3 separate regions of the Homo sapiens genome follow, and all the other regions are linked to region 1. Evidence: fine-mapped expression QTL. A gene starts in region 1. Each other region holds a variant in brackets. All regions are shown on one strand. Distances are from middle to middle.

Region 1 (10,206 bases):
CTATGCAGGGACTGTGAGCCTGGTTCTCCTTAGAACACTCCCAACCCCAGGAAACTAGCCTGAAACCAGAGCCCTGGAGCAATTCCTGGCAAGGCATCCCGTTTGGGGTTGAGGGCTCTGGGTGCTGTTCTAATTTATGGGCCACCTGACCTGGCCTGAATTCCTCCCACCGTCATTCTCTCAGGAGCAAGCGCTGCTCGGGCCAAGCTTGGCCACATGCCCTTGACCTTCCACAGGCCCATCCAACGGTGCCTGTCCCTTGAGGCTGGGGGTGGGGAGCTCAGCCCCATGACAGGCCAGTCCACAGGCATCACAGGCCACATTCATTCATTCATTCGTTCATTCATTCATTCATTCAGGGAGCCCTTCATTGACTCCAGGGAGGATCACAAACAAGGAGGAGGCACGCCTGAAACATAAGTACCAGGAGGGCAGCCTGGCAGAGCAGGCAGGGGCCTGGGCTCTGCACCCCACAGTTTACTGGCTGTGCCATCCTGGACAAACACTCCTTCCTTCAGTTTCCCCAGCTGCGAAAAGGGGACAATAATTGTACCTAACTCATAAAGTTGTTGCAAGGTTTAAATACGTAAATTATTACATGTCCGTGAGATGAGCATGCAAAGTGTTGAGAAGCCTGCACAAAATAAGTGTTCAATAAATGTCAACTAGTAACATTAAGAAACGATGAGAAGTTGTGCAAAGAAAAAAATGTGATGAAACAGAGTTCTCGGGACTCAGGGTAGGGCACCACGACATGGGGTAGTCAAAGAAAGCTTCCTGGAGGAGGTGACATTGGAGCTGAGACTTGACTGATGAAAGTCAGGCTTGTGGGGATCTGGGGGATGGTGTTCCAGGCAGAGGGAACAGCAACTGCAAAGGCCCTGAGGTGGGAATGAGCTTGGCACAGCCAAGGGCTAACAGCATCCACAAAGCCAGCGTGGCCGGAATGGAGTGTGTGCTGAGGAATTGCTAGAAGAGGAGATCAGTGAGGTAGGGCCTGGCACACTATGGGGAGGGGAGCCCATAGCACCCCAGGCCCCCATCATGGAAAACTGGATCTCAGACCCTCCTGGCCTTTGTCCTAATGACACTTTTTAAAAAAGCAAATACATCTCTAGCCTTCACACCAACCAAGAGACAGAAAGTCTGGGAGTGAGTTTGTGCCAAAGTCTAGGAGCGCCTGCCTGATACCTTCTTCCTATCTTCTGCCAGCGAGTTATGGGCAAATTATTACTATTTACTTGATATTACTAGCTGACATTTATCTTCTTTCTGTCTTCTACTGGGACAATGGCTGGTCAGCCTCTGCCTTGGGGAATCCCAGGGAAGGGAATCCTCCCACCTCCACCTCACAGACGCAGCTGGAACCTCTGCACAGGCAAAGGGACAATGTTAAGATCATTCCAGTGTCCTGAAGCTCCTGCAGACCTCAGGATCTGGATCCTGGCTCCTGTACACCAGGGAGGAAAAGAAGAGCCCTGCCTTCTCGAGAACTCTCACTGACAGAGGCATAAGCCGAGGGAGGAACAGAAGAAGCCATTCCCAAGGCCCAGCTTGTGGGCAGAGAGTGACCACCCTGCTACCTACTTTACTCCGAGGCTGCCCTGTCCCTAATAATCCTTCCAGACTCTGGGAGTGTCCATGCCTCCAGGGCTCACAAGAGGTGGGTGGCCAGGATGGAACCAACCTAGGGACTCCCTCTGTGCTCTCTTTCCAACTTCAAGCCCAAATCAGATGGGGACCCAGGCCAGCCCCACTGAAGAAGTGACTGTCGGCTAAAGGGACCACCGGAGGAGATTGTGTGGGCCAGGTGTACCTGTGCCAAGACTAAGATGAGTATATTTGGGAAGAGCAGAAGGAAACAGCGAGTATCTTTAACAACAATCACAAAGTACAATTTCTAACAAACACCCTACTTCCTTCTTTCTATGTATCTATTCATTGCTTGCTGGAGACTAGCAGTCAGAATGAGGCTAGGTCAAGGCATCCATCCCCAGGGGGGCCAGTTTTGCTGGGAGAGCGTGGGTGGCCCAGAGCACCCCTGCCCATGGTGGCCTGGATGACCCCTCATAGGGCAGCATAGTGGTCAATTGTTCATCACTGTGACCCTGAGTGTACATCTTCTATTGAATACAAGATCCTTCCTCCTGTTCTCTGATCGACCCCCATTTGGGTCAGTGGAGACTCAGAGAAGTGAAGCGATTTGCTCAAGGTCACACAGCCCGTGGATGGAAGCTGGTAGGGCAGTGCCTGCCAGGACCACAAGGTCTATTGAGGAATGAGGCTGGGGAGGCCCCTGCTATGTGTCTGGAGGGGATCCTGTGTGCCAGCATCACAGGAAAGGGAGTCCAGAGCCCTTGGGAAAGGGAGTGGGTGCTGAGGCCGTTTCGCTCACCTTTGCGACTCAGAAGGAGTGAGGGTCAGGATGCCACTCCGTAATTAACTGGGCCCAGCACCCCCGGGCCTTGTTCCTTGGGGTCTACTTGGAGGCTCTGGGGGCATCACTTGGGGTCTTGAGCCAGGACCTGTGTCCGGGCAGCAAAGGACTCAGGGAAGAGTGGAGGGCCAAATGGGAGTTGGTGAAGTCTCTGGGGACAGTGGGCTCGTGGCCAGGGTGGAAGAGACACAGGCTGAGAGGGCCGTCCAGTTCAACCCGCTGGTTTTAGGGTCACATAGGACAGAGTGGGGTATAAGAGCATGAGTTCTGAGTCAAACAGACCTGGACCTGAGTCCTGTGTGACTCTGGACAAATGGCTTCATCTCTCTGAGCCTTACCTTCCTCATCTGTAAAATGGGATGATCAATGAACCCTCCAGGGTCTATGGTGAGGAAGAAAGGAGGTGGTGGGTTCAGTTCCTAAGTGCCCACTAATACCTCCTCCTGTTATCAATACTGGCAGTTGCTCTCATTACTACAGGTAACTCGAGTCACAATAGCAGTAACAACTCAAGCTCCTTAGTCCTGGAAGAGGCTTCCTTCCACTGGACCAGTGAGTCTCAGCTGGCTGTGATTTTGCCCCCTGCCAGGGGACTGCTGGCACTGTCTGGCAACATTTTTGGTTGTCACAATTTGGGGGTTGCTACTGGCATCTAGGGGACAGAGGTCAGGGATGCCACTAAACATCCCGCTACAACAAAGAAATATCGAGCCCAAAATGCAATAGTGCGAGATTGAGAAACTCTGCACTAGACCTGTTCTGTCCCGGTGTCACTGGCTCACGGTGGCCAGTGAGCACCTGAGATGCACTCAATCTACGCTGAGATGTGCTGAAGTGTAAAATGTGCACTGGATTACAAAGACTTAGCATGAAAAAAGGAAGGTAAACCATTTCCTTAATAATTTTTATATTGATTGCATGTTGAAATGATAATATTCTAAAATATTGGGTTAAACAAAATATATTATTAAAATTATGCCTGTTGTTTTAACTTTAAAAAAGTGTGGACTACTAGAAGATTTAAAATGCAATTGTGGTTTTGTTGTGGTTCAAACTGGACTTTTCTGGACAGTACTGGTCTAGAGCGCACTGCCCCTCTCTGTGGTGGTGGAGAACCTTAAGTGCCGGTGGGGGTTAGGGTCTTTGTGGTCGTTGAGACAGGACAAGGGGAATCGTCACACTGCTGCCCCCTGCTAGAGGGAGGCTGAGTCCATATCTGCCCCACTCTGTGCCCCTACCCCAGCTGGGCCTCTCTTTGCCAGGATAGAGCGATAGCAGGGCGCCTGAGCAGGAACCCTCCTTTGCTCCCCACCCCCGACTGGGAGGATCATGCCAGCTTTTCAGGCGGCACCAACCATGCCCCAGCAAATAAACAGGTGGGTATGGTGACAGCTGAGGCTTAGAGACCTGAGCACTCTGGCTCCGCGCCCACTCCCTAGCGGTGCCCAGTTCAGGGCTGGGGGTGGGGAAGGCAGGGGAGCTCTTGCACCCCACCAGAGCCTGGACCACCCTCCACTGCTGTGTTCTTGTTCTCAGAGACCACCCAGTCCACCTCTGAGGTTTACATGGGGGACAACTGAAGCCCAGGCCCAGGGGAAGGCAGAGGTTGAGGCCAGGGACAGAGGCATGGAGTGGGTCCCTAGTCCTGGGGCTTGTTGGTATCAGCGTGGCCAGTGCCTCTGCAGCGGTGGCAGGAGACTGGTTGGGCAGGTGGGAGGGCTGCCAGGGCTGTGTGGGGAGACACATGATGGGTTGGTGGGGGCCTGGGAGAGGCAGGGTGCTCCAGGTGTCAGGATGATTTGAGAGCCATAAACCACGATGGTGCCTCCGTGTGAGTTCAGCTTGAGGCAGAGAGGATAGGGGACTCATCCGGTGTCAGCACAGGGTCCCACCTCAGAGTCCTGCATGCTCCCTGCCCCCAGCACTGACCCCTCCAACCCTAGCAATGGGGAGGTTTTAAATGCTTGGAATAGAGGGGGCAGATCAAACCCCAGCATAACCCCACCCTTTCATTCACACCAGCCACACCTTTCCAAGGCCCCGTCCCATTACTCAGGGAGACAGATCATTGGACTTGGCTGCTTTCTGGGATTGCGGGGGGAGTGGTAGGGCCCTACCCTACCTTCAGCTGTCTCGGACATCCCGCACTCTACCAAGTTCTTGGACAGAGAGAAGGGGAGGGAGCAGAACTCTGAATCAGGATCCTTTTCCAACAAAGTACCCCGCTATACACCCCAAGTCCCCGTCGTCAGCTGGGTAGAATATTGTCCCTCTGTGGTCTCAGAATGAAGTCAGGGGAAGGTATCTGGGGACACGGAGCTCAGGGCCAGTGCCTGGGGACAAGCAACCACCAGCAGCCCCCACAGGGCGAAATCGGAGCCTGAGTAACCTCCAGGGCCGGATTCAGCCTCAGGGCAGCTCCCTTCGGGTCCTGCCCCAGTCCCCGGCAAGTCTCCGCGGAAGCTCCGCTGAACTGGGAGTGGGAAGCAGGAGAGGGGCTGGGTTGAGGTGGGTCCGAGGGGAAGTGAGGTGCGGAGGGGAAGTGAAAGGGGAGAGGACGGCAGGGAAGCTGAAGGGGTGTGAGGTCCCCCGGGAGGAGAACTGGAGAGGGCCAGACGGAGGGTTACGGGTGAAAGGGAGGGTCTGTGAGGGAGCTGGGGCTGAGGCTGTGTTAGGGGGTCTGGGAGAGTCTCAGGGTTTCTGGAAGGTGGACACAAGGTTCGGGGGTTGTCAGGTTTCTGGATGAGATTCTTAGGATTTCTGGGCTCGGGGGCTCGGGATGAGGGACAACTCGGGCTGGACAAAGGCTGTCCACGTCCCCGAGTCTGAGCGCGTCTCAGGATTTCTGGGCTCGAGATCTCGGCCCGGGCATCACGGTGGGCCGGCTCACCTGTAGACATCGGTCCAGAGGTAGGTGCCCAGCACGTACACCGCCTCCACGCGGCTCCCGTACTGCAGCCGCACGGTCCGCTCGCGCAGCATCCTCCCCGCCGCAGTGCCCGCGCTCGCTGGTCCGGGGCGGCCGGGAGCACCTGCAGCAGGTGCGCCTTCTCCAGCAGCCTGCGCCCCACGGCCCCGCGCGCAGCCTTATCCAGCGGCCGGTGGGCGGGGCGGCCCGCCCCAGTCCTCTCGCAGTGGGCTGCGGGCCTGTCCGTCAAGCGTGGTCCCGCCCCTAACTCGTCCCGCCCCGCTGAGGTCGTGGCGAAGTCATCAGGGACCAGTTTTGTGCTTTCCATGGTTGGATTGTCATTCTTTCATTCGACAAACCTTCGGTGGGCGCCCAGGTGTTGGAGGGCCCTAGCTCCCCTCCGGACGCCCCAGCCCAGTGGGGCTGAAAATGCAAATGTGGGAACACAAAGAGGGTGCCCTAACCCAGCCTGGGGGCCAGGAAGCCTTCCCAGAGAAGACGATCCTGGAACCTTCTTAAAGGAGGCGTTTGCAAATTAAAGGCGAGGAGAGGGAGCTGCCTGTGCAAAGCCGGGTGCAGCCCGGTACCCCCATCCCCCAACAGTCAGATGAACCTCACCATAGAGAAAACGGGAAGCGGTGGGGATGGGGAACCCGGCAGCTGAGGGAGACCAGGACGCCAAGCCAAGGCATTGGAGGGTGGGAGATGGGAGCCTGGAGTGGTTGTCTCCGCGAGCCGTGGTCGGGTGTGCTCGTGAAATGGGTCATTCTGGGCTGGGGAGGGGCAAGGAAGCCCCTGGCTGTGGCCAGAGCTGGAGAGGTGGGGACTGACCCGGCCACTGCTTAGGGACTGGGATTTTGGTGGCACCTGGTGACTGATAGGATGTGTGGGTGGAGGGAGAGGAGAGGGGTAAGGATTAGGGCCCCGGTTCTGGCCTGGGCCACCAAGGGAAGGGGGGTGCCACCCAGAGGTCATCGTGTGTCTCACAGAGGCTGAGATGTAGGATGACAATCAGTGTGGGCCTCGGCCAGCCCCTCCCATGTCCCAGCCCTTCCCCTGGGACCCAGTGGGAGTGCTGTTCAGACACATACATCAGCCCTGTGTGAGGAAGTGGTCTTTGGTAGGTGAGGACAGAAACTGAGGGGGGGTGGGCAGAGGCCGTGGGAGGGAAGGAGTGGGGCGGAGGGGATGTGTGTTTGGGAAGGAGTTAGAGCTGATGGAAGATGGAGCTCCAGGAACGGGTGCCCCCAGACAAGAGGGGTGAGGCCCACAAGTGCCCAGTGCTGATATACCCAGCCCTTGGACTCCAACCTTCTCCCTGAGGCGGCCCAAATTAGGAGGTGGTGAAGAGCCCAGCTGCTTCTGAGTGGCAGGGATTTGGGAGGAATGTGAGTGGGGAAGAGGGAAGGCCCGAGTTTTAGCCAGGAGGTCATTTGTCCCCCAAAGGCACAGCTCACAGACCCAGGGAGAGGCCAGTAACTGTTTTTTTTTTTTTTTTTTGAGACAGAGTTTTCCTCTTGTTACCCAGGCTGGAGTACAATGGCGCCATCTCAGCTCATTGCAACCTCCGCCTCCCAGGTTTAATTGATTCTCCTGCCTCAGCCTCCCAAGTAGCTGGGATTACAGGCAGGCACCACCACACCCAGCTAATTTTGTATTTTTAGTAGAGACGGGGTTTCTCCATGTTGGCCAGGCTGGTTTTGAACTCCTGATCTCAGGTGATCTACCTGCCTCGGCCTCCCAAAGTGCTAGGATTACAGGCGTGAGCCACAGCGCCCGGCCGAGGCCAGTAACTTCTGATGAACTCCAGGCACCCGGCTGAGCACATCCTCCAATCAGGAGGAATCTCTCGGGTGGCCACCTGCCAAACTGGGACAAAACTTGTGTAGCTTGGAGAGACTTCGAGGCGCCCCCAGAGGTGAGCTCGTGTCTGGGCACCCCTCTGCCACGAGTGACTTTGGAGCCCTTACTGTGTGACAGATAACGGGCACCCACCAGGGTTCTCACCTTCCTGGGGCTCTAACTTTCATTTGACTCATGGGGAGACTGGGGCCAGAGTGGGGGAGGACACTGTACCCCCCACTGACGGAGACCCCGGGCAGCTCATAACAGGACACTGGGCAAGATAGTGATAACATCAGACCGCAATACCCAGGGGAGCTGGAGTAAGAGCGGGCACTTACTGCTTTCTTTCTGTGGGTCAGGCACTGTTCCAAGCGGCTCTTTTCATGTATTAGAGTTAGATCACTGAACCCTCCCAGTAACTCCGCCACTTTACAGATGAAGAAAGTGAGCTGTGAGGAGGTGGGGGAATTGACTCTGGGTTGCAGAGCTCCTAAGAGTGGCAGAGGGAGGAGCTTGCAGGGCCACTGGGGTGGAGGCAGGGGGCAAGGCCGAGTGAGGGCAGGGGCAGAATGCTGTCCATGCTTTGTAGATAAGGAAGTCGCAGTTCTAGGCCCAGCTCTGCTTTTGTGCCGCCTTGGGCCAGGTACCCTGCCATTCGGAGCCCCATTTTCTGCCTCTGTGAAGTAACTGATCCCTCAGCACGGTGTAAGGACGGTATTAAACGAGACAACAAGGTGCAGAAAATACTAGCACAGAGCCTGGCACAAGGCTCAAGAAATGAAGCCCCCTCCCCTTAAAAACCCAATTCAGACCTGGCCACCCACACTCAGGACTCCTGCCCGGGCTCAGGCCATCATGTTGGGCCCAGAGCCTGGTTGATGAGACAGGAGTTTCCTGGTGCCCAGAGGTTTAAAATAGCTGAAGTAGTCACAGCTGTTGGTGGATTCAGGGCCGGAGGTCGCATGCATCACGGCTGCTCCCACCTCTCCCCTGGGATCCGGAAGAGCCACAAAGCATCTCACGGTGTCTTTTGGGGACTTAGCTTAGGCCAGTTCCTGGCACAGACCCGCACCCACCCCTCCAGCAAGCGCCCCTGCCAAGCCTGTGGGCAGGGTGCCTGGGCTAAGAGGGGCTCTTCTGAGCTGTTTTCTGTTAGGTTCCTCCACTGGGTGTGGGGTCTCCGGGCCAGGCCTTGGGGGAACCAGGGAGGCCACTCAAACTTCGACAAGCCTGCTTTGAGGAAACAGACAGCTTACTGAGAGCACTATACATACAATAATTTAAAAAGAAAGAAAAAAATGCACAAGTATTACCTGGTCATTGTGGAAAAGTTAAAAAAAATATGATCACCCATGACCCTAGTACCAGAGATCAGTCTGAATCTATGAGTATGATCTGGCCGGGCTGCCCACAGGCTGCTGTGGGGCAGCACACTTCCTGAGCCCTTGCGCCATGCCAGGAGCTGTTCAGAGCCCATTCACACACACATCTCAGCCTGTTTAATCCTCACGACAGCCCTGTGAGGTGAGAGCTATTATTATCTTCCATCTGCACAGAGGCACCAACCAGCCTGCAGTGAAGAGCATGGACTTTGGTCTTGGTGGACCTGGGGTCAAGTCTGGCTCTGCCCCTCACTAGCTGGGGGCCTCTCTGGGCCTCAGTTTCTTCTTCTATAAAGGAGATACTAGGAATTGTTATAAGGAACAAGGAATAACAAGATGATATCCAGTAAGGTACTGCACATCGTGGCCTGGCACAGACCCAAGTTCCAGTAGACGGTAGTTATTTCCTATGCGTATATAGTTATTTTAAGTTTTTGTAAACATGGGCTTCTGACTACATGCTGTTTGATAACATACTTCAAAGCTTCCACAATGTGAGAGGCTGGGCTGGCTGTGGCCAGGTCACACAGAGCATTGTAAGTCGTGGAAAAGGCTTTGGGGCTTTATCTTTATGGGGTCATGGGGGAAGCCTGGGAAGGACTTTGGAAGGTGTCAACGGCACGATGTACACTTTAGGAAAATCACTCTGGCTGCTGTAGGCAGCTAAATTTGACAGGAATTCTGGCAGGAGACCAGAGAAAGGAAGAGGTCGGGGTCTGGGCCATGGATCCCCAAAGCAATCCTTCTGTGGCCAGGGATCGCCCCAACCCCTGACTCTGCACCATGGGGACCTGCAGTCATACCCTCAAGAGCAGATCCCCATAACCCTGGCCCTGCCTGGCCCCGTCACATTCCCTTTCCCCTGGCAAAGCCCACCCTTTGGTCTCACTCCCTTGAGAAGAGTCTCTGGGATGGGGGCGTTGATTCAGCCTCTGCCTCAGCTCTCGGTCCTGAGAGACATCGTGCTCAGAGGCGGGGAAGGGCTGGGGTGCTCCATTGTTCTAATACTGCGTGAGTTCAGAATGAGGAAGTCATGTCTCTTCTGCGTGCTGCTGTGGCTGTACCCCACTCGGGGGTACATTTATATATGCAGAGAGAGAGATTTATTTTAAGAAATTGGCTCACATGGTTGTGGGGGCTGACAAGCCTGAAATTTGTAGAGCTGGCCAGTCAGAAATGGGAGAAGAATTGATGTTGCGGTCTTGAGTCTGAAATCTACAGGTTGGAAACAGCACGGTTTCTATGTTGCATTCTGGAGGCTGAATTGCCTCCTCTTTGGGAAACCTCAGTCTTTGTTGTTAAGGCCTTCAACTGATTGGATGAGGCCCACCCACATTTTGGAGTGCAATCTACTTTACTCAAAGTCTACTGATTTAAACGTTGATCACATCTGAAAAATATCTTCACAGCAACATCCAGACTGATGTTTGACTGGATGATGGGGTGCCATAGCCTGGCCAAATCGACACAGAAAATTAACCATCACCATGCTGAAAGATGGGCTAAGGCTTTCATTCATTAGGTCACCATTTATGGAGCATTTATTCCCTGCCAGGCACCTGCGCTAAGCACTGTGTGTATGTTATCCCATTGAATCCTTGCTACAACCCCAGAAGTAAGTATTTTTCTTACCC
Region 2 (10,206 bases), 68 kb before region 1:
CTTATCACCAAGCTGGCTAAAATCATCAACAAAAGGAAAGCCATTTCTACAAATGTTTTTCACCGGGAACCCCATTTTGTAAACTGACATGAACATCTAATGCCACCTTGTGGTATTTGGGAGGAAGTGAGAGGAAAGATTCCTGAAGGTATCAACTCCAGTGGACTTTGCTTGCTTAATGTCCCATTTTTTTTTTGGTCTTTTTTCTGTGAGATTTAATAAGGTATAATTCATTATAATAAAATTCACTAATTTTAAGGGTATAATGAGTTTTGACAAAGCAATGTAATCCTACCACAATTACAACAGAGTATTTCCATCCAAAAAGGTCTTTTGTGCCCTTGATGGCAAACATAAGTCCCCTTTTCCTACCCTTAGCAACTGATCAGCTATCATCACGAGTCTGCCTTTTACAGAATTCATATAAATGGCATCATACGGTACGTAGTCTCATGTCTAGCTTCTTTCACTCAACATAATGCTTCTGAGATTCATATGTTACTGCATATAACCATAGTTAAATGCTTTTTTAAAAAATTAAACTATTTATTTATTTATTTATCTTTGAGACTGAGTTTTGCTCTTGTTGCCCAGGCTGGAGTGCAATGGTGCAATCTTGGCTCACCACAACCTCCGCCTCCCCGGTTCAAGCAATTCTCCTGCCTCAGTCTCCCGAGTAGCTGGGATTACAGGCATGTGCTACCAGGCCCGGCTAATTTTGTATTTTTAGTAGAGATGTGGTTTGTCTATGTTGGTCAGGGTAGTCTCAAACTCCCAACCTCAGGTGATCTGCCTGCCTTGGCCTCCCAAACTGCTAGGATTACAGGCGTGAGCCACCGTGCCTGGCCAACCTTTTTATTTTTTAATAATTATAGATTCATATGCATTTATAGAAAATAATACTGAGGCCAGGTGCAGTGGCTCACACCTGTATCCCAGTACTTTGGGAGGCCAAGACAGACGAATCACTTGAGGTCAGGAGTTCAAGACCAGCCTGGCCAACATGGTGAAACTCCGTCTCTACTAAAGATACAAAAATTAGCCCGGTGTGGTGGCACATGTCTGTAATCCCAGCTACTCGGGAGGCAGAGGCAGGAGAATCGCTTGACCCTGGGAGACGGAGATTGCAGTGAGCCAAGATTGCGCCACTGCACTCCAGCCTGGGTGACAGAGTGAGACGCTGTTTCAAAGAAACAAAACAAAACAAAAAGAAGAAAATAATACTGAGACTCCACATACTCTTCTCACCTGTAATCCCAGCACTTTGGGAGGCTGAGGTTGGGAAATCACCTGAGATCAGGGATTCAAGACCAGCCCAGCCAACATGGTGAAACCCCGTCCCTACTAAAAATACAAAAAAACGAATTAGCAGGGTGTGGTGGCGTGTGCCTGTAATCCCAGCTACTAGGGAGGCTGAGGCAGGAGAATGGCTTGAACTTGGGAGGTAAAGGTTGCAGTGAGCTAAGACTGTGCCACTGTATACCACCCTGGGTGACAAAGTGAAACTCAAGCTAAAAAAAAAAAAAAAAGAGAGAGAGTTTTGCTCTGTCACTGATTGTGCAGTGGCATGATCACAGCTCACTGCAGCCTCAACCTTCTGGACTCAAGCGATCCTCCCATCTCAGCTTCCCCAGTAGCTAGGACTACAGGCATGCGCCACCATGCCCAGTTAGTTTTTTTACATTTATTTTTGTAGAGATAGGGGTCTCACTGTGTTGCCTAGGCTGGTCTTGAACTCCTGGCCCCAAGTGATCCTCTGCCTGGCCCTCCCGAAGAGTTGGGATATAGGCATGAGCCACCATGCCAGGGCCCACATACTCTTTACCCAGTCTCCCCAACAGGAACATCTTGCAAACTGTAGCACACCAGCACAACCAGAATACTGACAGTGCTAGTCAAGATAGGGGACATTCCCATAAGCACAGGATCACTAACATTGCCCTTTTATAGCCCTGTCCACTTCCTCCCACCCTACCTCCCCTGTACTCCGTAAGCCCTAGCAATCACTAATCTGTTCTCTACTTCTCAAATTCGGTCATTTCAAGAATGTTATATCAATATAATCATCTGGTATGTAGCCTTTTGGAATTGGCTTTTTTTATTCAGCCGAATTCTCCGGAGATTCATCCAAGTTGCTGTGTACAGCAATAGCTTTTTTCTTGTTATAGCTGAGTAGCACTCCAAGGTATCATGTACCACAATTTGCTTAACCATGTAACTACTGAGGGACATTGGGGGTGTTCTAATTTTTGGTGACATGAATAAAGCTGAGATGAACATTTGTGGACAAATTTCTGTGTGAACGTTACATCTTCATTTCTCAGGATAAACACCCAGGTGTGTAATTGTTGGGCTGTATGGTAGCTACAAGTTTAGTTTTTTTTAAGCAACTGACAAAACTATTTTCCAGAGTGGGTGGCTGCTGTGCCTGAGGCAGATAGTAGGGTAAGTGGGACAATATGCCTTTTAAAAAATGGGGCTACTTCAAGTTTTTACTTCTAATTTGGACACTTTTATTTTTCATTTATTTTTTAAAATATTTATTTATTTATTTATTTTGAGATGGGGTCTCACTCTTGTCCCCCAGGCTGGAGTACAATGGCGCGATCTCGGCTCACTGCAACCTCCACCTCCCGACTTCAAGTGATTCTTCTGCCTCAGCCTCCTGAGTAGCTGGGACTACAGGTGCCTGCCACCACGCCGAGCTAATTTTTATATTTTTAGTAGAGACGGGGTTTCACCATGTTGGCCAGGCTGGTCTTGAACTCCTGACCTCAGGTGATCCGCCTGCCTTGGCCTCCCAAAGTGCTGGGATTATAGGTACAGGCCACCTTGCCCGGCCTTTATTTTTTATTTTTATAGACACATGGTCTAGCTTTATTGCCCAGGCTGGAGATCATGGCTCACTGCAGCCTTTAACTCCTGGGCTCAGGCGATCATCCTGACTCAGCCTCCCAAGTAGCTGGGACTATAGGTGCACACCATCATGTCCAGCTAATTTTTGTAGAGACAGGGTCTTGCCATGTTGGCTAAGCTGGTATGGAATTTCTGGGCTTAAGCAATCCTCCCATCTCAGCCTCCCAAAGTGTTGGGATTACAGGTGTGAGCCATTGTGTCTGGCCCTAACTTGGACTTTTTTTTTTCTTTTTTGGAGAGTCTCATTCTGTTGCTCAGGCTGGAGTGCAGTGGCGCGATCTTGGATCGCTGCAACCTCCACCCCTCAGGCTCATGCAATTCTCCTGTCTCAGCCACCCGGGTAGCTGGGATTACAGGCATGTGCCATAAAGTCCAGCTAATTTTTGTATTTTTAGTACAGACAAGGTTTTGCCATTTGGCCAGGCTGGGCTCAAACTCCTGGCCTCAAGTGATCCACCTGCCTCAGCGTTCCAAAGTGTTGGGATTACAGGTGTGAGCAACCGCGCCTGGCCCCTAACCGGGCTTTAAACAGAATCTGGGACTGGAGCATAATCCCCTAGTTCTTTTTTTTTTTTTTTTTTTTTTTTTTTTTTGTGAGACAGTCTCACTCTGTCACCCAGGCTGGAGTGGAGTGGCGAGATCTCTCTGCCTCCTGGGTTCAAGCAATTCTCCTGCCTCAGCCTCCCAAGTAGCTGGGATTACAGGCGCGTGTCACACGCCCGGCTAACTTTTTTGTATTTTTAGTAGGGATGGGGTTTCACCGTTTTAGCCAGGATGGTCTTGAACTCCTGATGTCGTGATCCACCTGCCTCAGCCTCCCAAAGTGCTGGATTACATACAGGTGTGAGCCACTGTGCCAGGCATAACCCCCTAGTTCTAAAGCCTGATTTAGTATTGTCAGTGGGCAACAGGCATTAGGCTCTATCAAGCTGGGTATCAGAACCACAAGGCCTGTGGGATGACTGTGGTTACCTGCAATGAGGTTTTCCCTTCAACATTTCTTTATAACATTTAAATATCTGTTTCATATCCACTCTACACGGATAATTGATCACGTATTATCTTTCCAAAAGAGACTAAGTTTGTATTAGAGCTAATTTAAATTTTTAAAAAGTCTTATCATATGAATGATGTGAAATAAGAGCAATGCCAGGATGTACTACACTGAATATCTAAGTCGACATATCCCAACATCAGTTTTGGAGTGCCCCAAAATGTCATCATTTTTTTTTTTTCAGTACAACTAATTTAAATTTGTTTTGTGTCAAAAATGTATTTTATAGGCCAGGCGTGGTGGCTCATGCCTGTAATCCCAGTACTTTGGGAGGCCGAGGCAGGTGGATTACCTGAGGTCAGGAGTTCGAGATCAGCCTGGCCAACACGGTGAAACCCCGTCTCTACTAAAAATACAAAAAAATTAGACAGGCACGATGGCGGGCACCTGTAATCTCAGCTACTTGGGAGGCCGAGGCAGGAGAATTGCTTGAAATCCGGGAGGCGGAGGGTACGGTGAGCCAAGATTCCGCCACTGCACTCCATCCTGGGCAACAACGTGAGCGTGACTCTGTCTCAAAAAAAAAAAAAAATGTATTTCATACAATATTTGGTGGGGCAAAGGGGGTTTACCAGAATGAAAGAAGATTCTGAAATCAAAATCACCAGAGTGGTCATGGTTCTGAAAGTGATAGAGCTTTGCTCATCTTGAGGTCTGTACAAAGAGTTAATTCTCAGGATTATGTTATCTGTGTTCCACCAAAAAATTCGTTGAATACATATATCTAAAAATTTGCCAGATTTCATTCATCGAACCTTTATAATCTGTCACACACGGTGCCAAATAATCTCTAATCTTTATAACATCTCTATGAAAAATGTTTTGTTGTTCCCAGTTAAAAGACGAGGATAGGATCATATAGCAACACAGGTCACTTGATTCAAAAATCCAACCTTTTAGCCATTATAACCAGTGGTGAAAACGCAAACATAAAACGCAACAGTGCAAAAAGATAATTCCATTTCACAATGAGATCCAAGGAACAAAAGAAGTTGTTGCTCTAATCATACAATGAGACTATATGATTTTTTTCCCCTTGTTACCTGCCCAGCAATTTATACTACAAATCCAAAAGGAAAGAGGGCCCCTTGAAAGCATTTTTACGTTAATCTAAAGACTAATGAGTATTCAAGGCAGAAAGTACATTCCTAGGAAATCTTGGATAGTATGAATTTCATAGTTTATAATTTAAGCAAGGTAAGCAACAACTGAACTGAGAAGGGTGAATTCTGAATGGTGCTGAAGGCTGGTTGTTGTTCCTCCAGTAAAGTGTCCTTAGGGTGCAGGCTTGGAGTTGGATGGAGTGGATAAAGATTTGGAGGCCAGAGAAGAAGGTGGGGAAATAGAGAGGAAGAAAGCAAAAAGGACTGTATGAAGATAAGCCTGAGTAAAATACAAGGTGCAGGCTTGCTGAAAAGTGTGATTGGTGATGCTTGAAATCCAAGCTCTATCACTTACAAGCTGTGTATTCTTCTGCAAATTATTAGCTTTTCGGATTCTATTTCTTCCTTTGTAAAGGGTGGGTAGTATTAATATCTGCCTCATAAGATAACCCGGGGGAGGGGGGGTCAAGTTTCTAGCATAGCCCAGAAAAAAATTTTTGCTCTACAAGATTGGCAACCTTATCAGTCTTTGTATTATTCTGATTTGTAAATAGGTATCCTAGCCCTGCCAGCCTAAGGAACAAGATGCACATTTTTTAAATTTTTTTTTTTTTTTTGAGACTGAGTTTCGCTCTTGTCGCCCAGGATGGAGTGCAATGGTGCGATTTCAGCTCACTGCACCCTCCACCTCCCAGGTTCAAGCAATTCTCCTGCCTCAGCCTCCTGTGTAGCTAGGATTATAGGCGCCCACCACCACGCCCAGCTAATTTTTTTTTTATTTTTTTAGTAGAGACGGGGTTTCACCATGTTGGCCGGGCTGGTCTTGAACTCCTGACCTCAGGTGATCCACCCACCTTGGCCTCCCAAAGTGCTGGAATTACAGGCATGAGCCACTGCACCTGGCAAGATACACACTTTTAAGTAGGTAGTTCTTGTCCTAAAGGAGTTCATAGTCCAGATGAAGAAATAAGGCAACACAAACAATAGTTAATATACTACAGTCAAATACTTACAGGCAGAATTGTGGTTCAGTGGTCAGACTATAAGCATAAAAAGAATTCAGAACCTGAACCTGAATGTTACCCACAGGTAACACACCAAGCTCATTACTGAATTCTTTTGAGGTGGCTTTTGTGGGTATACATGTACATTCCCACAAGGAAGGGGAGGCCTTGGGGCTCTTCTATTTTCTGTTGCCCTCA[G/A]GAGGCCCTGCAAAGACCTTGCCTGGAATTACAAAAATGACCTATGAAATTAGCCTTTTCTACAATGCATTCTTAGAAGAGGGGCTTGGAACTCTCTCGTTAGTGGGGCTCTCACAATTTAATTGTTTGCTCAGCAACTATAAAAGGAACAGGTAAACAAGCTCATTATCAATCATCAATTTAATACTGAGAGGATGTCAGCTTGAGGCTCTGGTAGGCTGTCTTCTTCCTCTATCTCCCCTTTTCAGAAAGGCTGATGCAGACAGAGTGGATCCAAGTTCACACACAGCATGCTGGATAGAACCAGGATTGGAACATGGGCAATATGTACTGTGTTATGCAGCCATAGCAGGCACTTAAGATGAAAGATGTCCTCATTTAAGTGCAAGAGAGGAAGAGGAACTAAAATTTCTTGGACACCAACCATGTCCCAAGATCTATGCTAAGGAGTTTTTCTGGTACCATGTTAAAAAACTGCCTCAGGTCTGCTTCTTGGGAATGTGATATTTTGAGCAAGCCAAAAATTTTCTTTCTGGGGGCCTCAAGTTTTCAAAGCTCCAAAAAGGAGGGTAAGGATTCTTGCTTGCCCACCTTAAAGGGGTTGTTGAGAATCCCAGAAGAGGAACAGACTTAGAAAGGATTTGCAAATCCTTAGTCCCTTATGTATACAAAAGCAATTTCCCTTCCCCTTCTAAATGTTCCCACTTAGAAGGCAGGTCAGAAATGTGTTGTTTCTTGGCCATACAAGGGGCGTGGGAAAATCTGTTACTGCACACGGCATAGTAATAAACAAGAACAGCGCCAAGCCCTCTACCTGTCATTCCATGTCAACTCTATGAGGTCCGTATTATTATATGACCTTTAGAGTCAGAAACACTGAGAGGATACTAGTGAAACTGTGGTGACACTGCTTTAAGGAACCCAGTCTTTCCTGCAACCCCCACCACCCACCTCCGGGATCCTTCGAGGTAGGGGGCTGGGTGCATTTCCCTCCATCTCTCCCTTCCCCTGCCCTGTCCCCAACAATTCACATGTCCTTTCCTCACCCATCCCGGTCCTCAACCTCGCACCCTTGAGGAATTACCTCGCTTCCCAATTCCCATCCTTCACACCCCGCAGGTCTCCCTTTTCTACAGAGGCGATAGTTTGGTGGCAGAAAAAGGGCTTGGAACTCCAATGTCTGGATTCAAATTCTGGTTCCAGCAGTCATTCGCTTGCCATGTGACCTTGAGCAATTCAAGTCCCCTTTCTGAACGTCCCCCCCCCCCGCACCCTTAGCTGTAAAAAATTGCCCGTGCCCTAACTCACAAGCTGCTGCGAGGCGCAGAAAGATAACTTGACAGGGATGCTCGAAGCCAAACCAAAGCACTGCACCAGGGGGAGGAGGTCCTCCATCTCCCTGAGGCCTTGCCCTATGCTTCCTCAGTCTCTCCGCAGCCCCATCAGCTCCAGGCAGTCTCTGTGGCTTTCCTGACTTTTCCCTCTCTGAGGCTCCAGGACTCACCTGCAGGCAGGCTCCGCCAAGGGTTGTGGCCGGCAACCGGCGCCTCAAGGAGAGGGCGACCACCGCCGCCATCTTGGCTCCTGACGTCAGCCCCACCCCTTAACCCCGAGGTCGCTCTCCGCCGGTGTCCCGTCGAACATCGCGGCGCCCAGCCTACATCCACTGAGGACCCACTAGCCGCGTACGAGCAACCAAGTGGGAGGCGGCTTCCGGTTTCCCGGGTGGGCGGAGGGAAGGCGGGGCAAGCACAGCGAGCGTGCGCAATAGCGCAGTAGCGGCGCATGCCCATTTGGCTTCCCCCGTGACCTTCTCAGAAAGGGGAGGAGTCTGAGAGGCAGGGCGACTTTCAGGGGGTGGGGCTAAGACTTAGATGGGGCGGAGCCATCCTATCCGGGTCCCTGCCCCGATTTCAACCTCTTTATTCCTGGAATTTTTGTTTGTTTGTTTGAGATGGAGTCTCGCACTGTTTCCCGGGCTGGAGTGCAATGGCGCGATCTTGGCTCACTGCAACCTCCGCCTCCCGGGTTCACGCGATTCTCCTGCCTCAGCCTCCCGAGTAGCTGGGATTACAGGCGCACACCATCACACCCGGCTAATTTTTTGTATTTTTAGTAGAGACGGGGTTTCATCATCTTGGCCAGACTGGTCTTGAACTCCTGACCTCGTGATCCGCCCACCTTGGCCTCCCAAAGTGCTGGAATTACAGGCATGAGCCACTGCGCCCGGCCAATTTTTTTTTTTTTTTTCAGACAGGGTCTCACTCTGTTGCCCAGGCCGGTGTGCAGTCTTGGCTCACTGCAGCCTCGACTTCCCAGGCTCAAGCGATCCTCCCACCTCCAGAGTAGCTGGGACTACAGGCGTGTGAGCCACCATACCCGGGTAGTTTTTTTTTTTTTCTTTTTTTTGAGATGGAGTATCGCTCTGTCTCCCAGGCTGGAGTGCAGTGGCGCGATCTCGGCTGACTGCAACCTCCGCCTCCCGGGTTCAAGCAATTCCCTGCCTCAGCCTCCCGAGTAGCTGGGATTATAGGCGTCCGCCATCATGCCCGGCTAATTTTTTTGTGTTTTTAGTAGAGATGGGGTTTCACCATCTTGGCCAGGCTGGTCTTGAACTCCTGACCTCGTGAGCCACCCACCTCGGCCTCCCAAAGTACTGGAATTACAGGCATGAGCCACCGCGCCCGGCCACCCGGATAATTTTTTTAAAAAATTATTTGTAGAGATGGAGTCTGGCTATGTTGCCCAGGCTGGGCTCAAGCAATCATCCTGCTCCAACTTCCCAAAGTGCTGGGATTACAGGCGTGAGCCACCACACCTAGCCTCCCTAAGAATTTGTCAGTCTTATTATTCATCTCTGACGCTTACTGGCTTGAGTCAGCCCTTTCTGTCGCATACCGTGCAGCTTGCCCGAGGCTGCCCAGGTTTCTGCACTGAGAGTCCCAAACAAACTGGGCAGTTGGTGAATGAGCTGAGGTGATTTCAAGGGTGGCTGGCAAAGGTGCCATTCTTTTGTTCGTTCATTCATTCATTCATAAATACGAATGGAGTGGCTACTATGTGGCAGGCACCAAGTGCTGGGATGCTGCAGGGAATGAGCAAGCCAGGTGGTCACTGCTCATTGAATTTACTCTCTAGTGGTGGAGACGGCAAGTGAGCAGACAGCTAGACACTGTGAGCTCTGTTCTGTACGAGAGGGTGTGCCCAGAGAAGGACACCCAGTCCTTGGTGGCTTTGTTAGCCATTTAATATAAGAAACCATTTCTACTCTGTGCCAAACATTATGGTCCATTATCCCACTTAATCCCCACAGCAGTTCTGTGAAGAAAGTTTTTTGGTTTTGTTTTTTACTGAGTTTCCATTTTAGACATCTCAGCTTCTTTTTCCAGCCCCCTCCATGGATCTGCTCAGAGCTGGCCTCACTCTTGGGACTTACCTTGGGCAGGAGTGGCCTGGAGCCTCCAAGGCACCTGCCTCTTCAGTCACTCCACGCGTTTGTGTAGATTGTTAACCTTGCAGGTCCCGGGGTTTCGTAGGAGTGATTTTTTTTTCCCCTTTCTGTCTGCTTGTTTTGGACATGTGAAGGGCGCCTTTCTATAGTCTTTGGTTTCCACTCTCACAGCTGATGTGGATGCTACTGGAGACATTGAGATGGCCAGGTCAATTGGCTGGATGGGCTGTTTCTGGAGTCCTTGACTGGAACCCCGCTATACCGCCAGTGTGGCCTCATTAAAGGGGGTGTGTAGTGAGGCCTGAACCTCTAGGTCTAACCTGGAATATTCTCTTCAAGGCCATGTGACCTTGGATAAGCCCCTCCCCATCTTTGACCTATAGTTTCCTTGCCTGAACCATTAGGGTGTTGGGCCCTCTGATTTAAGATTCTGTGATTCACGTGGCTGTCTTGTGGATAACTGGTAACAATGCTGAGGTC
Region 3 (10,206 bases), 19 kb before region 1:
CCAGGCTTCTCATCAGGCTGTGTTTATTTTACTTCGTAAGTACCCCTCTATGTATACTTTACTCTAGGCTTCAGAGTGTTATTATAAAAGTCACATATGCCCATGGCAAAAATTGAGATAATACAGAAGGGCAGAAAATGGAAAGCAGTTAGAAGCAACAGCCTGAATGTACACAGAGCAAGACTGATGGAGCCTAAAAACTAGGTTGAGGGAAAAGTACAAAACAGAATGTGATGGAGAACACCATGCCGTCTGCACAAATTAAAAATACATGCACACCAACCACACCACATGCCTCCTGAGAGTCACCAGAGCAGAAAGAGACACATTAAACCCAGCAAAATGGTCCTCTGTGGGGGAGCAGAATGGGAGTGGGGAATGCAAGATAAAAGAAAATAAGTAAATGAACGAGGGAACAAATGAATGAATGGTGAATGAATGCAAGAATAAATAGAAAGAGGAGAGGGGCCGTGCATGCACCAGCAGAGATAATACCACGCCTGGAACTGAGAATGATGAATGCGACCCTCTGTCCTGAGGGTCTGTCTCCCCCACCTCCCTAGTCTTAAAAGAACAGGCAAAATAATAAGAGCAAATGCCTTCACAGTGCTTCCTCTGTAGCGGGCACATTTATCCTTCCCAGCAGTTCCATGAATTGGGCGTCCCCATCATGGGATGGAGAAACTGAGACTCAGGAGCCTGCTCTGTTGCCGTCTCTAGGAGATGCCTGAGCTCCTCTGTGGGTTCCATCATTGGTATGCTGTGTGTCTGGGAGCCTGTCTTGGGCTTTAGTCTCCTGAGCTGTGAAATGGGAATTGCCTGCGGGATCTGGGGCTGTGCCCTCGGAAGCCCTGGGTTCAGGGTGGTGCCTGCCCTGAAAGCTAGGTACCTTCTTTGGGTTGTTCTTCTCCACCACACCATCCCGGTCTGCGTCCACATCCAGGGAGATCTCTGGGGAGAAGAGACATGGGTGAGTTGCTGAGCCTGCCAGGCAGGGCAGGGCAGGGGCAAGAGGAAGACCTGTGGGATTTGGGTGCGTCTCAGCCATTCATTTGGTCACGGGAAAGAGAGGACCTCGCTGAAGTCATCTTATGCAACCCCCTGCCTCAACATCCCACTACCCACTGGAGACCGTCAGCAGACACCGTGTGGACCTCGTAGCTTACGGCTGCAAGAGCTGCCATCGGGGAGGTCTGGGACCTCCTACCACTTCATTGTTCTGGCTGGGGGTTGGGGAATGATCCTCGCTGCACAGATCTGGATGCCTCAGTTCAGAGGTGAAGTCGCATGCCCAAGATCACATAGGGACGCTAGCAGAACTGGGGTACACAGTGCGGTTGGTCTGATTCATAGTTCATATTCTGAAAACTTAACAGGGATAGCATTCCCAAACTGCCTTTCTCAGTCTACCCGGGCATGCGCATAGGTGTGCACATGTGCACCTGGGTGTGCGTGTCTCTTTCTCTCCCAGAACTTCCAGTGGGCTAGATCCCACCTTCAAGGACTGAGGGTTTTACTGTGGGTGGGAAGCTGTCTCTAACCCCTCTTGGTCTGAGGTCACCTGTGAGTCTAGATGGAGGATCCAGGGCCAGGCCCCCACTTATCCCTTCTCTTGGTGAAGGGACCCTCAGCATCCCTAGGCCTGCCATGGAGACAGGCTTTGTGGAGACTGTAGGGAAGTGAAAAGGTTTAGTATCAGACAAGGTGGGGTTTAGACCCTGGTTCTCTGCTTATAAGCTGTGTGACTTTGGGCAGGTTAGAGGACCTCTCTGAGCCCCAGTTTCCTCACTTGTAACATGGGGCCCTTCCTGGTTACAGCAGATGCATTAGCTGCAATGGAAGGCACTACTGACATTTTTGAGCCAAATAACTCTTTGTGTGGGGGCAGCCTGTGCATTGTAGGATGTTTAACAGCACTCCTGGCTTCTACCTACCAGATGCCAGTAACATCCCTCCCAGTCGTGACAGCCAAAAATGTCTCCAGATATTGTCAAATGTCCCTTGGGAGGCGAAATTGCCTTGAGTTGGAGACGGATGAGGTCGAGTAGGGATGTGGTTGGGAAGGTGTTGGGAGTGTCACACACATGACATGTGCCCGTTCCAGGTCCCCAGAGCTGCCCGAGTGGGCTCATCTCACGCTGAGCATGACTTGGACCTGGTGGGCGCTGGGTGGTAATGAATGCATTCCTGGTTAGTCCCCGTGGCAGGCACACCCTCTGCCTGGAGGGCATGGAAAGGAGGGTCCTGGCACACGAAGTGCACTGATGTCACCCTTCTCTGGGCCAACCAAGCCCAGAGTCCAGAGATCACATTCAGGTCCTCCCTTTGCCTATAGCCTGCATACCCTAGACCTGCATGTGACTTTTCCAGTCTAGAAGGAGGCTGCAAGGGCGCCTGGCCCTTGAGAGAGGCAGTCTTGTGTGTCCCAGCCTCTGCAGCTGTGCGGTGAGTTAGGTGCTGTAAGGCATAATTTGTAACCTCCTCCCTCCGATCGCATTCACTCCACATTTCACTGCTGAGGAGCTACTGCTCCGGGAGCTGTACCAGGCAACGGGCAATGGAGGCACAGCACCTGCTCTCAAGGCGTCCACAGTCCCATGAGATGAATAGCATTGCTCTCGTTTCACAGGGCAGCAAACCCAGGTTCAGAGAAGCCACTTGTCAGCAAATCGGGCTGGTAATCTGGGAGGCTGGTGCAGGATAAGGACCCCAGGGGAAAGAAGGGAAGGCGGTACCACCAGGGGCTAAGAGCCTGGGGTGCAGGGGCAGGAATAATACTGGTTTTGGTTCCTGGACCTTTGTGAACTTTCCAGCCGGTCACGTCCACTGAATGCTGCCTTTCAGGGAGCTGGCTTCCTGAAACTCCTCCCTCGGAAGGAGCCGCAGGTCCAGCCTCTTTAGGGAGCCACTCTGTCCTTTTCAAGGTAAAAATTTCTCCCCTGCGGGCATCCTGCTCTGCAGCTGCACAGCGTTTTCCAAGGTGTGTTCTCTCGGCCACTCCAGGGGAGGCGTGACCACCCCCACCCCCTAACGATACAGATGAGGAAACCCAGGCCCGCAGCAGGGAAGTGACCACCGAAGTTCCCAGAACGCAGAGCCAGGCTCTCAGCAGGGCCTCGGACTCCGGCTGCCTGCTCTCTGCTGTTCCCTGCAATGAACCCAGGCTGACCTCCCTGCAAGCTGTTTCCAAAAGCCCAGCCCAAAGTCAAAGACACAAGACTTGCTCCCTTGAAGGTCATTCCCAGAGGAAGTGCCCATTTCCCCACCTTGGTAGCCCTGCGGCCTTCGTCTCTAGGCCGTAAGGTGACATTACATTGGGACTCCTTGTGGCGAGTCCATTAAAGCAGTGGGGCCGTGGGCTAGGAGAGAAATTATGGTGCAGTCTATACTGCTTCATTTCATTATGAATTCTTAAATGGAAACATTTTATTCATGTAATATTTGGACATAGTACAAACAAAATCAAATAAAATAGTAACACACTGTTTCTAAAGAAAGACAGCAGTTCCTTGTCCAGCCCTTCTTCTCAGCTGCCTAAGGCAACCTCTCTCATGCTTATTGCGATTTCCTGATTTACTGAATTCAGACAGGTTTCGTTACCTTCCTGTTACGAAATGTGGGCATTTCACAGTGTGGCTCCCTTATCGTCCTCCCAGCCTCTCACAGGGCTTCATAACTCCTCTCTGATGACCCATGACCTGTCCCCATAATCCACTGAAATGACCTTCTGGCCCCTTCACCCTCAGAGACCGCCCACCCTGTAGTCATGCCCATGGGACTTCGCCCCTGCAAGGCTTCCCCCAATGTCTGATTTAACTAGATTCCAGTGGGATGCTGCGGGTAGGGGCAGAGAACAGGGCTGGTGTGACCTGCCCAGAGCATTGCCTCTTGGGATGGCTCTGCCTTCCCGAGGGGGAGGAGGGAGAGGAGCTCTGCTTCAGGGCCTCCAGGCTCCAGA[C/G]GACATTTCCCAGAGGCTCTGGATCCCACCTCAGTTCCCCAGAATAGCCCCAAGGCGTCAGGTGGCTCCTGGGTGTGGGGCAGATTGACGGGAAATGTCCCTAGGATTGGGTTCAAGGCAGTCTGCCCTGAGAATGAAGACACTGAAGCCTCAGCTCTGACCGAGAGGCACAAGCATTTTGGAGGGTCGCCAGAGAGTGGCAGGGTGCCTGGCCTTCTTGCCTTACTAAGCAGCTTGAGATGTTATGGGAAGGAAGGACACCCTCCCCCACAGCCAATCAGGGCAAGTATCCCAGCCTCTGGGGAGAAGGCATAGGATCAAGCCCCTTAGGTTGATGTTAAAATTTTCTGGGGCCCGCATATGTGTACTCCTTCCACTGCCAGGACCTCAAATAGGGTGGGATTCTTCCTCCCTCCCCACACCTCACCTCTTGCTCTCCCCCATCCCTCCCAAAAAATGGAAGTCTTTGCAAATCAACCCTAACCAGGGTCTTGAAGGTCCTTAGGGATTAATTAGCTCAAACCCCTTATTTTATAGTTTGTAAAAAGTGAGTCCTAGTGGGGGTGGTTACTTGTTAAGGTCACACAGCAAGTCCTTGGCGGGATTGGGACAAAGACCCAGAGCCTGATCTGGCCAAAGGAATCATGAATTTGCTCCCAAATCCCAGAAGGAAGAAGGAGAGACCATACATTTCTTTAACTTCACCCAGGCAGAGAGAAAATGCGGCCACCTCAAGAGCAAGAGAGAAAAGCAGGCGGAGCATTGACTAAGCACCCACTCTGTGCCGGGCCCTTCGCACACAACATCCCACTGAATCCTTGTAAACACCATGCAAGGCTGCTCTGTGAAGCGCATTTTATAGATGAGGAAGCCAAGGCTCAGGGGGATGATGTGACTTGTCACAAGCTGGCTGGAGGGGACAGAGAAAGATCTTAGGCTTACTTCTGTCTACCCAGAAGCCAAGGCTCTTTCTGCTCAATGTGGACTCAGGATAGGACCAGGGTGAGAGAGATTCAGATACATTTTTGTGCCCAGGGGACAGTCCCAGCCTCTCAAGATATTGGGGTTGGGGGGGGGCTTGCCTCTGAGGCGCTGCCCCTGAGTGATTGATTACTCAGGATGACGGGCTCAAGGGCTCCTGGGGCAGATGCTCGAGAAAAGAGAAAACCTAGAAGGGACAGAGAGAACAGTGGTCCCCAAGGGAAACCAGATTTTCACCAGGGTCTCTGTTGGAACAGGAAACAGAAGTTCAATGGTGTTAGTTTCTTTTTGCAATTGAATGACTGTCTCTTATTCTGTTTTTTGTTTTGTTTTGTGTTATTTTTGAGACAGAGTCTCATTCTGTCGCCGAGGCTGGAGTGCAGTGGCACTGTGTCAGCTCACTGCAACCTCTGTCTCCTGGTTTCAAGCAATTCTCCTGCCTCAGCCTCCTGAGTAGCTGGGATTACAGGCGTCCACCACCATGCCCGGCTAGTTTTTATATTTTTAGTAGAGACAGGGTTTCACCATGTTGGCCAGGCTGGTCTTGAACTCCTGACCTCAGGTGATCCGCCCACCTCGGCCTCCCAAAGTGCTGGGATTACAGGCGTGAGCCACTGTGCCCGGCCATGACTGTCTTTTATTCTGAGATTATGCCTTGCCTATTTTTTAAGAGTTAAAATGATAGTGATAGTTGATAGCAAATTTTTTTTTTTTTTTTTTTGAGACAAAGTCTCGCTCTGTCGCCCAGGCTGGAGGGCAGTGGCACCATCTTGGCTCACTGCAACCTCCACCTCTTGGGTTCAAGCAATTCTCCTGCCTCAGCCTCCTGAGTAGCTGGGACTACAGGTGCGTGCCACCACGCCCAGTTAATTTTTGTATTTTTAGTAGAGATGTGGTTTCGCCACATTGGCCAGGCTGGTCTCAAACTCCTGACCTCATGATCTGCCCACCTTGGCCTCCCAAAGTGTTGGGATTACAGGCGTGAGACACCGCGCCTGGCCACAAATTGTTTTATTGATGTATTTTTTTTTCTTTTTTTTGCCAAGCATCAAAGTTGTTAGTGTTCTCATTTTTTGGGGGGTGGGGGCAGGGGACATTTGATTGGCCCATGGAATCTAAATATCTGGAACTTGTGGCAGTTAAATAAATAATTATTAACAGACCTCGGAAGGATGAACTTGGTCACTTGTCGTGGGCACATGTGGCATCTTTTGGGACTCAGCCATGCCGCCAACTCTGAGCGGGCTTCCTCTAAGCACAGCTTTGTCATCTCCTAGTGAGGAGGAAAAGTCCAGTCCTGCCTCCTTATAGACGCTTATTTTGCCATCTATCCTAAGTCTGTCTTGCTTTGGTGGAAGTCTTGTTAATGGTGCAGTCAGCCTTCTGGGATCATCCTCATTTGACAGGTGTCAGGCCCCTGCCCTTCCTGCCCCCGTCCTCAGGTGTCCCTATCTTGGTGGGATTAGGTTTCCTCAGGGACTGTCATCTGAGACTGCCTGGATGCTGTGTGCATGCAAGGTTCACACACGTGCCAGGGCTCAGTACAACCCAGGAGTCTTTGTTGATCATCTGCCACCCTCACCAAGGTCATCCCGAGGTTCCCTACCCCAGGGCTGGGCACCTCCTTGGGACAGAAAGAGGGACAGGGGGACCAGCAACCAAGCCCATTTGGGAATTAGCCAAGAATGAGAAGGGCCCTGCTGCTAAGCCTGTTTAAGCAGCTGAGAGCACAGGGCTAGAGAGGAAGGGGCTGGCTCGGGAGTTAGTTGTATCTTGGGGAGATTCTGAGACCCCCCCTGAGAATGTGGGATAACTGGAATGATTGGCATCTCACCAACCATTTTCTGGAGATGTAGCTGCAGGCAAGTATTTGTTTTACCTTTTCTGAGCCTTGATTTTCTCATCTATAAAATGAGGATGATAATAATAATATCTATCCTTGGAATAGTTGGAAGAAGAGATTGAAATCGTGACGGTAAAACATTGAGTACTGGAGCCTGGCACACCATAGGTGCTCAATTAATATCAGGTGTTTACCATTCTCCCCCTCCTCCTCCTCATCAAAGTGCCCAGTGCAGCTCTAGACACACAGTAGGCCTGCAATAAGCAGGCCGCATCATTATTTTGAAAGCACTCAGCATGCAGTTGACTCTCAATAACTGGTAGTTCCCTTCCTCTGCCATGCGGCAACTCTGTCAATGTTAAACCAAGGTTGGATGAACAAAATGACCCTCTGAAATGTCCTCTTGGCTTTAACATTCTATGATTAAAAAATGAAATAAAATAGCATAAAAGTAATGCCTCAGTTTCAGGGGGTGGAGTGATGGAAAATTCAGATGATCACAGCCAAGGGTCCTGTAGAGCCAGGCTAGGCTCCACCTCCCTGGCATGCAGGCCTGGCACCCAGCGCAGGGCAGTGTGATGCAATGGAGAGAACCTGAGACAGGGATAATTCTGGGTTCTGGACTCAACTTGCCACCCAGTTGCTGTGTGATGTTGAATAAATTCCCTAACCTCTCTGGGCCTCACCATCCTGTGGATCAAATGAAGGACTTGGACTAGGTGAGTTAAGGACCTGGAGGCTGCATCTCTGCACCCTCGGGGCTGAATCTGGGGAGAACCAGGGGGCAGCTGGGATTGTCAAGAACAGCTGCTAGTTTTATAGACTGTGGCCATTCCCCTCACCATGAGAGGGACACTCTTCTCCAGGCTGCAGGGGAGAGGCAGGGGGAAACACACTTCACCTTTTTCTCTTTTAGGGCCACAGAGCCTGGGAAGGGGACCTTGACACTTGGGGGGGGGTTGCTGATGGATCAGGGAGTGCCTCTTCCTGCAGATAAGCCCCCACCCCAGTATGGAAGGACCGGGGTGGGGCACATGTGACATCCCTCCCCAGGCCTGTGCCATTCAGAAGAAGCTCCAAGTGCCAGGTCAGCCGCACTGAGAACCGCCTAAGTGCCCCAGAGAAGGACAACAGTGCCAGGCCCTGGGTGATGAAGGCACTGAGACGGCAACCATGCCAACTCACCAATGGCTGTGAGGAAGAGCCCCGCCTGGTCGATGGGAATGCTCCCTTCCTCGTCATAGTAGTTGACGGTGACCTTGGTGGGGAGGGGGCACATTGGAGTAGAGAGAAAAGAGAGCAGAGATCACAGATCACAAGCAGGAAAACCTGAAGCAACTGCTGTCCCTCACAGCTTGTCAAGCCAACCCTCTCCAAACATCAGAACCCTCTCCTCCAGGAAGAACTCCTGGGTTGGTGGGCGGTTTCCCTCAGGTAACTGAACTAGACTGTGGACTCCCCTCCTGCTGGCTGAGAGGGCAGTTAGGATGCTGTCTGCCTTCCTGTGCCACTGTGTGCATTCTGCTGCCTGGGGTCCCCCATATCTGCCATGTTGCACGTCTAGTGCCCACTGAGGGGACAGGGCTGAGGCTATTTTCTTTGGACCATGTTCAATGCCATCACTGTGATGGGGCACATGGTAAAGTTCATAATTACGGAACCCAGAAAGGAGACAGTTCTGGTCTCAGCCTCACCACTTAGGCAAATCACCCATGGATGTTCAGCACCCCATTTTACAGATAGACCAAGGACACTTGTGACTGTAAGCTCCAATGATTCTATGGTTCTGAGCCTCTAAACTTTCTATCACTCAGCTGTCTATAATTTTCATCCTTTACGAAGCCATCGTTCCATGGTCTAACCCCACAACATCCACATGGCTACCGAGCACTGGAAATGCGGCTATTCTGAACGGAGGTGTGTTATAAGGTGTAAAACTCACACTAATTTTAAATTTGGTATGGAAAAAGAATATAAACTACCAGCCTGGGCAATATAGTAAGACCTGTCTCTAAAAAAAAAAAAAAAAAAAATTAGCTGGGCACGATGGCAGGTGCCTGGAGTCCCAGCTACTCGGGAGGCTGGGGCAGGAGGACTGCTTGAACCCAGTAGCTTGAGGTTGCAGTGAGCTATGATCGCACCACTGCACTCCAGCCTGGGAGTCAGAGTGAGATCCTGTCTCTTAAAAACAAACAAACAGGCCGGCCGCGGTGGCTCACGCCTGTAATCCCAGCACTTTGGGAGGCCAAGGTGGGCGGATCACAAGGTCAGGAGATCGACAGCATCCTGGCTAACACGGTGAAACCCCATCTCTACTAAAAATACAAAAAAAAAAAAAAATTAGCTAGGCATAGGGCAGGCGTCTGTAGTCCCAGCTACTCTGGAGGCTGAGGCAGGAGAATGGTGTGAACCTGGGAGGTGGAGCTTGCAGTGAGCCGAGATCGCATCACTGCACTCCAGCCTGGGTGACAGAGGGAGACTCCGTCTCAAACAAACAAACAAACAAAAAACAAACAATTTTGTTAATATTTTTTATATTGATAGCATGTCAAAATGATAATATTTTGATAGATAGGGTTAAGTAATAGATATTAAGACAATTAATTTCACCTGTTTCTTTTTGCCTTTTCTTTTTTTTTTTTTTTTTTTTTGAGACGGAGTCTCGCTCTGTCGCCCAGGCTGGAGTGCAGTGGTGCGATCTCGGCTCACTGCAAGCTCCGCCTCCCGGGTTCACGCCATTCTCCTGCCTCAGCCTCCCAAGTAGCTGGGTCTACAGGCACCCGCCCCATGCCTGGCTAATCTTTTGTATTTTTAGTAGAGACAGGGTTTCACCGTGTTAGCCAGGATGGTCTCGATCTCCTGACCTTGTGATCCACCCGCCTCGGCCTCCCAAAGTGCTGGGATTACAGGCTTGAGCTACTGCGCCCGGCCTCTTTTTGCCTTTTCAATGTGGTTACTGCAGAACTGAAAATGACACATGGCCCACGTGCAGTTTCTATGGGACAGGGCTGGTCCACCCTGCCTCTATCCTGGCATGGTCCCGGGCCCGCAGAGGCTGGACTTCCCGCCGTGGTACCTTGTCACTGCTGGCCTCGGTGCTCGCCTGGCTCATGGTGACCCGCAGGGTGGTGCTGGGCGAGAGAAGCCAGCGCTGCTTGCCATTGGTGGCCACCTCCTCAGCCTCCCCATCACGCACCACCTCCACCCACACGTGTTCCGAGTGCTTCAGGCTGAAGGTTTGGGCCCCGGCTGGGGCCGCGCTGTGGGGAGAGATGAGAGAGGGTTAGGGAGAGCCCTGGGGTAGGTGGGATGAGGGGCTTCAAGAGGAGACTCCTGCTTCCAGCACTTTGGGAGGTCAAAGCCCGAGAATCACTTGAGCCCAGGCGTTTGAGACCAGCCTGGACAACAGTGAGACCTTGTCTTT

Evidence for each region. PIP is the estimated chance that this variant, and not a neighbour inherited with it, causes the effect.
Region 2: its variant is fine-mapped to the expression of PADI2 in whole blood (INTERVAL, PIP above 0.99).
Region 3: its variant is fine-mapped to the expression of PADI2 in whole blood (INTERVAL, PIP above 0.99).

The regions. Positions count from the first base shown.
Region 1 is chr1:17,113,953-17,124,158 of GRCh38, forward strand. PADI2 (peptidyl arginine deiminase 2) reads right to left here and starts at 5,499. Exons shown (of 16, transcript NM_007365.3): 1 at 5,328-5,499. The coding sequence starts at 5,419. RefSeq lists silencers at 5,309-5,518, 8,041-8,224 and an enhancer at 6,090-6,624.
Region 2 is chr1:17,046,169-17,056,374 of GRCh38, forward strand. It overlaps SDHB (succinate dehydrogenase complex iron sulfur subunit B), which reads right to left and starts at 7,864. Exons shown (of 8, transcript NM_003000.3): 1 at 7,780-7,864. The coding sequence starts at 7,851. RefSeq lists enhancers at 7,744-7,803, 8,354-8,403. The variant G/A (reference allele first, on the strand shown) is at 6,276.
Region 3 is chr1:17,095,020-17,105,225 of GRCh38, forward strand. PADI2 (peptidyl arginine deiminase 2) reads right to left here. Exons shown (of 16, transcript NM_007365.3): 2 at 9,859-10,042; 3 at 7,968-8,040; 4 at 890-951. Among named protein-coding and RNA genes, the nearest start is that of PADI2, 19 kb to the right of the region's middle. The variant C/G (reference allele first, on the strand shown) is at 3,959.